Homo sapiens: one gene and its partners. The protein of the gene in region 2 purifies or fractionates together with the protein of the main gene of each other region. This does not show direct contact. Each region holds a gene or a part of one and is shown on either strand. Other genes may lie near its edges. The genes, in order: MRRF, FBH1 and ILKAP.

What was found.
Region 1: the proteins of FBH1 (region 2) and MRRF purify together in Homo sapiens (affinity purification with mass spectrometry; one large-scale study listed by BioGRID and IntAct). This does not show direct contact.
Region 3: the proteins of FBH1 (region 2) and ILKAP purify together in Homo sapiens (affinity purification with mass spectrometry; one large-scale study listed by BioGRID and IntAct). This does not show direct contact.

Annotation. Positions count from the first base shown.
Region 1 is NC_000009.12:122,309,793-122,313,447, reverse strand, and holds part of MRRF (ribosome-recycling factor, mitochondrial isoform 1 precursor), read right to left. Parts: intron 222-3,655; coding exon 62-221; intron 1-61. UniProt on the Homo sapiens protein: Responsible for the disassembly of ribosomes from messenger RNA at the termination of mitochondrial protein biosynthesis. Acts in collaboration with GFM2. Promotes mitochondrial ribosome recycling by dissolution of intersubunit contacts.
Region 2 is NC_000010.11:5,935,172-5,938,177, reverse strand, and holds the end of FBH1 (F-box DNA helicase 1), read right to left. Parts: intron 1,723-3,006; coding exon 1,591-1,722; intron 1,128-1,590; exon of another isoform or gene 1,069-1,127; coding exon 898-1,068; 3' UTR 585-897; downstream 1-584. UniProt on the Homo sapiens protein: 3'-5' DNA helicase and substrate-recognition component of the SCF(FBH1) E3 ubiquitin ligase complex that plays a key role in response to stalled/damaged replication forks.
Region 3 is NC_000002.12:238,169,787-238,172,735, forward strand, and holds the end of ILKAP (integrin-linked kinase-associated serine/threonine phosphatase 2C), read right to left. Parts: intron 1,239-2,949; coding exon 1,157-1,238; intron 891-1,156; coding exon 750-890; 3' UTR 616-749; downstream 1-615. UniProt on the Homo sapiens protein: Protein phosphatase that may play a role in regulation of cell cycle progression via dephosphorylation of its substrates whose appropriate phosphorylation states might be crucial for cell proliferation.

The DNA of each region.
Region 1 (3,655 bases), on a different chromosome or scaffold from region 2:
CATGAACAAATGATTCCTTATGCTGAATACACAGACACTACTACATTGCTGGCAATAGTACCTGTTTCTCTATTAGCCTAATGGTGTCCTCTGAGACTGTATCCTTGGATTTCTTCAGCTTGTTCATTGAGTTGGTGCGAACCTTCCGTAAAGAGTCTTTGGCCTTGTTGGTGTTCTGTTTGGCCAGTTTCACCAGCATTTCTCTGTGCTCTCTGGTTACTCTGATAAAAGACAAAAGACATTCAACAAAATCATTCTATACATTAACTGCTGGCCAAGAATTTAACATCACTCTGTCAACCAGTTCAGCAGTTTGTAACTTTCCTCTCTGTGGGCTGAACTCCTGGAATTTCCAGGAGGAGGAAAACGCATGTATAAAGGCTTTAAGTTGCCCAAACATGGGCAAACTGGGTTTGACTTTGTAGAAGGTACCAAACTTCCCAGTGAGAGAACTGGGATTCAAATCCCAATATTTCTGGCCTGTATTCTTTCTGCTACTCTTCTAATCTATTTCAAGTAAATCATGCACTGCTGCCATTACTTCTGCTTCCAGGCAGAAAGCTCTTCACAGTCAGTAATATGAAGCTTGGGACTGAAAAGGACAAAACCATCAAGAGCCCATGCTTCATTTAAGGAATTGGCTGGAGCACTGATAACAAAGAAAGGAGTGACAAGAAAAGAGGCTGGGAAGCCATATCACAGACAGTCTTGCAAGGTCACGAACCACGTTTTACAGATGAAGAAAATGAGGCCCAAAGAAATTTGGTACCTTATACAAAGTCAGACCCAGTCAAACCCAAGCTGGCCTGTCACAAAAGCCAATGGTCTTAGTATGACAGCATTCCTCTGCCCCCTGGGTCCTGAAATGGACATGCTTATGCTTCCTTACTCTCAAATCAACACGGTTCTTGCTCAAGGAAGGACAATCCTAAGTTCTGGGTACATGTTCAGTGTGGAATAGTGATGAGCAGCTGTTAAAGATTTAGTAACATCTACCTTACATTTTCTCTGCTGAGAAAAAAAATTAAAGAATTTTGAGAAAGAATAAGCTCTGAAGTGAACAGTTGTATTTACGTAAATCCTTTTGGATTCAGCTATTTGAAGGTATTCTCAAAACAACAATGAGTCTAATTACTACTATTATTAAACCGTTCTATGCCACATGAGTACTTTAAGTGTGTTACTTCATTGAATCCTCACAACTCTTCAAATGAGGAAACAGGCTCACAGATGTTAAGTGACTTGCCCATGAGCATGAGTGAGAGAACTGGGATTCAAACCCCGATCTTTCTGGCCTGTATTCTTTTTACTCTTGTAATCTATTTCAAGTAAATTATGCACTGCTGCCATTACTTCTGCTTCCAGGCAGAAAGCTCTTCAAAGTCAGTAATATGAAGCTTGGGACTAAAAAGCACAAAACCACCATGTCAGGAGTTTAGGGATTTGGATCAGATCTTGTTACTTTTATGGTTTTTAATTCATTGAACAAAAATCATGCTGACATGTTTAGGTCTCTTTTTTGTTCTGCCAAAGCATATGTCAGTATAAGGAAGGAACAGGAAAATTAAAACTTGATCCACTGATTCAAGAACTTAATCCTGCTGAAATACTAAGAGGGGCAGAAAATAAATGAATCTAAGTCTTTAAGAAACCTCATAAACTTCTCCAAAAAGAACATACTGAAGTATTTCAATATTGCATTTCACATAATTTCAAATAGGTATCTCACTGTTTAGAAAATGCTTAATCAAAGAAAAAAAATTATCTGATCAACTTTTCTTTTCACTACAATGTTATATTTTAAATGGAGGAAAAAACATACATTAAAAAATATAAAATGAGACTCAAAAAAATCTTAAGAATTAAAGGCTACAGAAAGAAAACAAAATCATAATATAGGTAATTTGGCCTTAATAAAATGTATTACTTTGTATTTATTAATGCAAATGTGACATTACCACACTATTAACACCAGTTTCCACATGTAATCGTGTCCAATCACTGACATTGTCAAAAATATTTCCATTTCAGGATGCAAAGAGGCAATAATCAAAAAGATACTACAAGGAAATGGAGAGTGGAGTGCAGTGAGAAGGGAGAAAGGGAGGGAGGAAGACAAACCATGCTGGACACAGGGAGGGCTGAGGGGGAGAAGGGCATGTGTGTGCTGGTTCAGGGTACTGAGCTGAAAGGTATCTAAAATACAAGATCAGAAGCAGTTAGGGTGATGGCAAGGCACTGGTTTTGAAGTCAGACAGACTAGGTTCATACCTGTATCTATTGCTCAGAAGCTGACTATCCTTGGGCAAGTTACTTAATCTCTGTGAGCCTCAGTTTCCTTATCTCTAAAATGAAGATTTAAAAAGACACCTTACAGGAGGATTAGGAGAAGCAGACACAACAGATAAAGTACCAATAAAGAGAGCAGCATATATAGTAGCCTTGAATAAATGATAGTGTTTATGAATGTTTTAATCAAACATGTTTAATTACTTCCTCATGAAACAATGAGGGCATATCTGTTTTAGAAAATAAACATATTTTATTATGGAAATATTTTCATTCTTTTCCAAATGTGATTAATACATCTGATCATCTCCACCTTGCATTCCTGGGTTTCTGTGAGTATGCACTAGAGTTTGTATTCCAGGCTTCTGAACTCAGCTGGTTAGTTCTGAGTACCCACTTTAAGTTGATGTGCATTCACCCATCAAGCACTGACTGAGCCTCCTACGCTCTGTGCCAGTTCTTGGGCCAGACCAAGGAGCTCCAGAAGAGGCAGACCTGGCCCACCTTTTCCAGAGGCTCAGACTAGTGGTGGAGACAAACTTGTCAGCCACTACGTAGAAAGAGGATGACTGTTGCTAGTATCTACTGCGGAAGGAGCATACAGAAAACACAACACTTCTATCTTGAGATTTGGAAACCGCCTTATGGATGCACAGTAACTTGTTAGCTGCAGAAGAATGCAAAGTGCATTTTGGGAAGCACAGTGGGAGATGTAGTGGAGGGACAGCATGAAGCTGAAAAGGGTACATCCCAGTCAAATATACTCTACAGGCCTGGAGTTTTCAAATTCTTCTTTAGCCACAAACCCCTGGCTCCAAAGAAAACTGAGGCAGAGGCCCCATTTGCAAAACAGATAAAAAGAGACTACTTCAGTTGATGAGGAGGAGCGGTGGGCTCTATCCCAGGCTACAAAACTCAGATCCGACCCCACTTCTGGGCCTGCCACTTACAAGCTGAGTGACCCTATGCAAGTTATTTAAACCGTCTGAGCCTTGCTCTTCTCATTTGGAAACAGAAATTAAAAACAAACAAATGAAACAGAACCTCCCTTTCAGAGTTATTGTGAGATTTAGATGAGGTAATACATGGGAAGCATCCAGTACAAGGCCTGATAGAGAATAAACACTCAGGAAATGTAAACTGTCTCTGCTGCTGTTGTTGGTTACATTTTTGGAAGCCCTGAAGCATCTTCAAATAATGAAAGTTTTTAATCAACAGAGGAATGACAGAGCAAAGATCTATGCTATGGCAAGATGACTTTTTGAGATCTCACTGGTAATTTAACATCTCACAGACATTTTAAAATCCAAACGCTCTCAGCATGTAGCCCTGAAATTTTCTCTTTTCAGGATTCATTCATTCAATC
Region 2 (3,006 bases):
GGCTTGTTATGTACGAACAGCTGGGCCTCAACCCTGGAGTTTCTGATCCTGTAGGCCTGGTGTGGGGACTGAACATTTTTATTTCTAACAAGTTCCCAGGTGATGTTGCCGCTGCTTGCTGGAACCACACTTTGAGAACCACTGATCTTCGCATCCGTTCCCTCCTCACCAGGCCCCACAGGCGCTGTGGTCCAGCCCATCTGGGGTCATTTCTTGCTGAGATTATGATCCTGTTAGCCTTGTAATTTATCTGACCTCCTTAAAACATTATTGTTATTTGAGACAGTGTCCCGCTGTCACCCAGGCTGGAGTACAGTGAGCTGTGAGGTGACCACGGCTCACAGCCTCAACCTTGGGCTCCAGCAGTCCTCCTGCCTTGGCTGGATTCAGTGCTGGGGTTACAGGTGTGAGCCACTGCTCCCGGCCAAAGTCTCATTTTTGATGCCTCAGTTCCCACCCAAGACATCACGTCTCATACTCTGCTTCCTGTGTCTTGTGAACAGTGACAGTGCTGTAGGAAAGAGTAAGCTGGAAAAAGAGAAGGTTCAGAACGACAGTGCTGACGCAGACATCACACAGCGGTATGCCAGTGCTATGGTGCCTGTTTAATTGAAATCTTGTAATAAAAGTTTAAATACATAAATTTTTTTTTTTTTTTTTATCAAAAGAACATCCCCCACTTCCCTGACCAGATACATCCAGAGGGGAGGCAAGTGGAGACTGGCTGTCTGTAGGGAGTGGAGAAATGGCAGGTCCAGCTTGGGCTGGTGTCCTCTTCCTCAGAAAGTGCTGTGGGTGAACCCAGAGTCTCAGGGAGCAGAAGCCCCCCTCGCTGGCTTTCTTCACGCGGGGTCCTCGGCAAGCTGCTCTGCACTGCGGAGAACGTGCGCCTTGTCCTCAGAAGACGAGGAAGAGCAGGGCCTCATGCCGGGGCAGTACGATGTTCTCCACAGTGCGCTCCATGGCGCGCACCTGCTCCGGGGAGGCTGTCAGGAACGCCAGGGGCCCGATGCGCTGCTCCGCACAGGAGTGGCAGAGGTAGCCCCCCTTGTTTTCCTTCCTGTTGCTCTGTGGTGATGGACAAGAGAGAGAGCTAAGGGGAACAACCAAAGAACATGGATTTTCCAGCAAAAAGCATGGAGTTATCATCACAGCTGCCCAGGGACAACGCATTTGGATTCTGATGTTTTCAGAGGGGTGCACATCCTCAGAGTAACACCTCCCACAGCACCACCAACTAGGTGGCCTCAACACCCCCAAATTCCCTGAGCTCAGAAACAGTCATTTATCCAGTCAAGATAAAGAACCAAGAAAAGCTGCGCTGGGACCCCAGGGAACAGCTCTCTCTCTAAGCGTGTATCACAACCCAGCCTCCCAGACCTGCGGCTTCAGCACAGCCAGGCAGCATCACGTGCCCTGACCTCTGACCCTGGGACAGACCACACACCTCTTGTGCCTCTCATATGAAAAGCCCCTAATAAAGGATCACACAGCTCTCTCTTATCTCCTCACCTACAACCCAGATAAGCACAGAGCTCACAAGCAAAAAATGCAAATGGCTGAATTAAGTTCCACAGACAGCAGACGTACATAGGTGATGGGCAGCTTCTTCATGGTAAGGACGGTGTCAACAGGGATGGCATTGTTGCACTGTCCCACGCAGCAGCGCACCACGCCTGTTTTTAAGACGTTGCTTGTCAGCTCTGCTTGCAAGAAGTACTCCTGAGAAAGAAAGAGCGAGAAAGAGAGTCATGGCGACACCTCCGTTAGGGTCTACTGGAAACACTGATAGCGGCGGCTCTGTGAGAACCCTTTAGATGCACTGTAAGTCCCAGAGAGAAAAACCCCGCCTAACCCGTTCTCCCTTACTTCCTCTAACTTTTCCCTGCCTCCAAAGCTATCGACAGTCCAACTGACAGTCCAATTGCTTTTTAAATATATATATATTTAACAGATAAACATGCAAAACTATTGCCTGTAATGACATTTCCAGAATATTTCTGGATTTTATTTTATGCTAAGGTATCCCCAGCTCAATCTTCAGAAAACTATTGTGTATTCACATTATAAGCCAGGCAGGCAACACAGAGGACATGAAGAAAACTTGCCCCAAACATCCCTGCGTATTTCCACCGTCCCGTGCTGCTGGCTGTGCTAGTGAGCAAATGACAGCCTCGCTAAGCCTGTGTCTTTATCCATAAATGCAGATGGCACGGTGCCTGCTTCAGGTGGCTGCTGAGGAGAAGAAACCCTTCAATGCATGCAAAGCACTCACGCCTGGCACGCAGGGAGCACCCAGAGGAAGCACTAGTGACCTCCCAGGCTGGAAACACCACAAGGACAGGGCACTGTCAGCTTCGCTGCTGCCCTGTGGGGCTCCACATCACAGACTGATATGCTAGCAGGACCGCACACATCTGCTGCCCAGGAAAGGACGGTTTCGTATTTTCTGGATTATGACCAGCTATTGATCTACTTATTCTACAATCTGTAACCTACGTTTTGATTTATTTGGTCTTTTCTCTTAGACGGCCTGCCTACCAGCTATGAAAAAGAACAGAAAACCACCAGGCAAACACTCCAGTTATGGCCAACAAGTACTAACAGCTGACGAGGTGAAATCCTGTCTGAAGTCACAGATTTTGCTGAAGTCCCTTGGACTGTCATCTCAATTTCCTTCCCGAGAGACAGCCAAGACCATGAACCTGGCGAGGTCCCTCCAACCCACGGTGAAATAGCTTCTCGTTTACACGTGTCCAAGGACACAGGTCTCCTTTTATAGATGTCTAATTTACATGAATGTTACGCTTCTGGCTTCCTCCTCACCTAGGTTTTCTAAAATGCTGTAGAGGACTCAGTCACAGCGCTCTCTTGTATTTCATTTACCCATTCCCTTGCTGTGGTTACTCGGTTGTTTCCAAACTATTTCCAACAATGCAGCAATGAACATCCTGTACCTGACTCCCTGTCCACTCCAGAAGTTTCTCCAGGGCTAGGCTCTCAAGC
Region 3 (2,949 bases), on a different chromosome or scaffold from region 2:
CATTCCAGCACAGGGCCAACTCCCCACACCTACCTCACGTGGGAAGCAGAATTTCCGGGCCATGCTGAGCAGCCGGCTGCCTGCTCCAACAGGAAGGTGCACACCTACACCCAGGGAGTCCAGATGGAAGCCACTGAACCGAGTCCTCCACAGACTCCTTCCACCAGACTGCAGCTCTCACCAATGGAATGAGAATGGCTAATTCTGTACTGTTTCTGGCAGGTCTGATGCATGAGTAACCTTGTCTATGAGTCTATTTCCTGGCTAAGCCTGAGCTCATGCTATGTAACATTTTGCAACACTATTTCCATAGGGAAAACTGAAAAGAGCTAGAGGGTTCCCAAAGCCCTGGTCTGGGCCTAGCCTTGACTAACCAGTCATCCCCTGGGTCTCTTCATTGCAACATGCCACTTCCCCAACCAGGGTCATCATGACAGTGAAAGCACAGCAAAATGCCCGTGAACTACAAAACATCACACAACCAGCAGCCTGCAGGCCACTACGAGCCAGTCCAAGATGCCTATAATGGTTTTAACAAGGAAAGACAGCATATTCAAAAGCAAACACAATCTCTGAAGGGTCAAGAGGTGCTCACAGTATAATAACTCAAAAGACTAGGAAAAAAAAAGAGAAACCTTTATTTACAACCATGGGAGTCCCACAGGAGTACACAAAACACACAATGTGCACACACACAAAATGAACCTTTTAAGTCAATACCATGCGTGCTCCTGGCCGCGCGCCACCCCTCAGTGCCCTATCCGCACCACCATCACAGTGACGTTGTCGGCCGAGCCCCGCTGCACCGCCTTGTTGGCCAGCCTGTTGCAGGCTGCTTCGTAGCGGGCGTCGGCTGCGGACTTCCCTTCCCGGGTCTGGATCTTTTCATCCTACCAGATGAGAAAGGGAATGAGTGAATGGAGTGACCCCGCACCCTGTCACTTTCCTGAGACATGACTGCCAGGAAGAAGAGCTGCTCTGGTCTCCATCAGGGCTGGCAGGACAAACTGACCAGTGAGTCAGTAGGCAGAGTTCACACTGAAAAAGGGCACAAGGGCTGTCCCACAATGGGAGGAAATGGGGTCTCAGAACTTCTACTTCTCTGAAAACTAAGACACAATTGGGACAACCACCACCCCCGTGTGAGATTTCTCACCTCGAGACAGGACAAGATGAAGTTCACGGCTTCTTCTGGGGTAAAGACCTTGAAGAGCCCATCACAGGCCAACAAAATGAACCTACAACACCAGGGAGAAATATAAACGGGTTTTAGGCCCAACCAAAAAATAAAAAATAAAAAAAGGGCCTGGAGATGGAGATAAAATAAATATTTGTCCAACTATTCAAAGGCTAAGGTTTTTTTTTTCTTTTTTCTTTTTTTTTTTTTTTTGAGATGGAGTTTCACTCTTGTTGCCCAGGCTGGAGTGCAATGACGCAATCTTGGCTCACTGCAACCTCCACCTTCCCAGTTTAAGCTGTTCTCCTGCCTCAGCCTCCTGAGTAGCTGGGATTACAGGTGCCCGGCACCACGCCCGGGTAATTTTTTGTATTTTTAGTAGAGACAGGGTTTCACCACGTTGGCCAGGCTGGTCTCAAACTCCTAACCTCAGGTGATTCACCTGCCTCAGCCTCCCAAAGTGCTGGGATTACAGGCATGAGCCACAGCGCCTGGCCAGGCTAAGATTTGTTTAAACCCACTTAATTTCTGAGACAAAGGTTTAAACTACTTACAAGTATTTGTGGATAGGATGTTATACATCAAAACTGAGACTATCCTTCTCTTCGCCAATTAACAGAATTATTAATTACCTCAAACATTAGGTGCTGTACTTTCTTAGGCAAACTCCAGAAAAATCACTGAATAAAAACATGGGTGTTATGGTAAATATACAAGAATTTATAACACCATAGGCCTTACACCACTTCCAGACATAAAGCTGAGAATGAGCCCAGCCTCGGTGAAACATCCTTGGGCACACACTGCACAGCTTGGGGCTGCATCCAAGACCGAGGCCCAAGAAGGGGCAGCTGTGCGTGTTCCTGTGTTTGAAAACCACATGCTCTCCCTTTCAGAATCAAACCCCCCTAGACCGTCCCTGGAATCTTTCTGAACACCAATGGATTCAATGTGACAGTTCTAGTTTTCCTGGCATTGGGGGTGGGGAATACGCATCCCCACAGCTTTGCGGTATAAGCCACCCTCCTTTTCTCACTGTAATATCTGTGGGGTTTTTTTGTGTTTTTTTTTCTTTGTTTTTTGTTGCTGCTGCTGCTGTTGTTGTTGAGGCGGACTTTCCCTCTTGTTGCCCAGGCTGGAGAGCAATGGCATGATCTCGCTCACTGTAACCTCCGCCTCCCAGGTTCAAGTGATTCTCCTGCCTCAGCCTCCTGAGTAGCTGGGATTACAGGCGCCCACCACCACGCCTGGCTAATTTTTGTATTTTTGGTAGAGATGAGGTTTTGCCATGTTGGCCAGGCTGGCCTCAAACTCCTGACCACAGGTGATCCACCTGCCTCCGCCTCCCAAAGTGTTGGGATTACAGGCGTGAGCCACCACACCCAGCCTGTTTTCCTCGTTTAACTAGGCTTTCACTCGGCCGCTACTTGCCGAGCCTATCGTCCATGCTGAGAACACCGTGGGGCCTAGTCCTGGCAGGCTCCCACCCCTTCCAGTGTCCTGAGACTCAGACCCTCAATAACCAATCACACAGACCCATGACTACAACCCAGGAAGGCGAGCTAGGAAGCAAAGCAGAAGGTGCATCCTTCAGAACACCAGAGGCGGCGGCTGCTGGAGAGATGATGGAGGACCCCGCGGTACGTGAGAACATGACAAACACACTGAAGAAGATGTGGAGAATGGGGCAGTGGCTCAAGACAAGGCCAAGCAGGCGAGTGCCAAAGCAAGGCACGCGCTCTTCATCCGCAGCACTGGGGCGGGACTCAGAG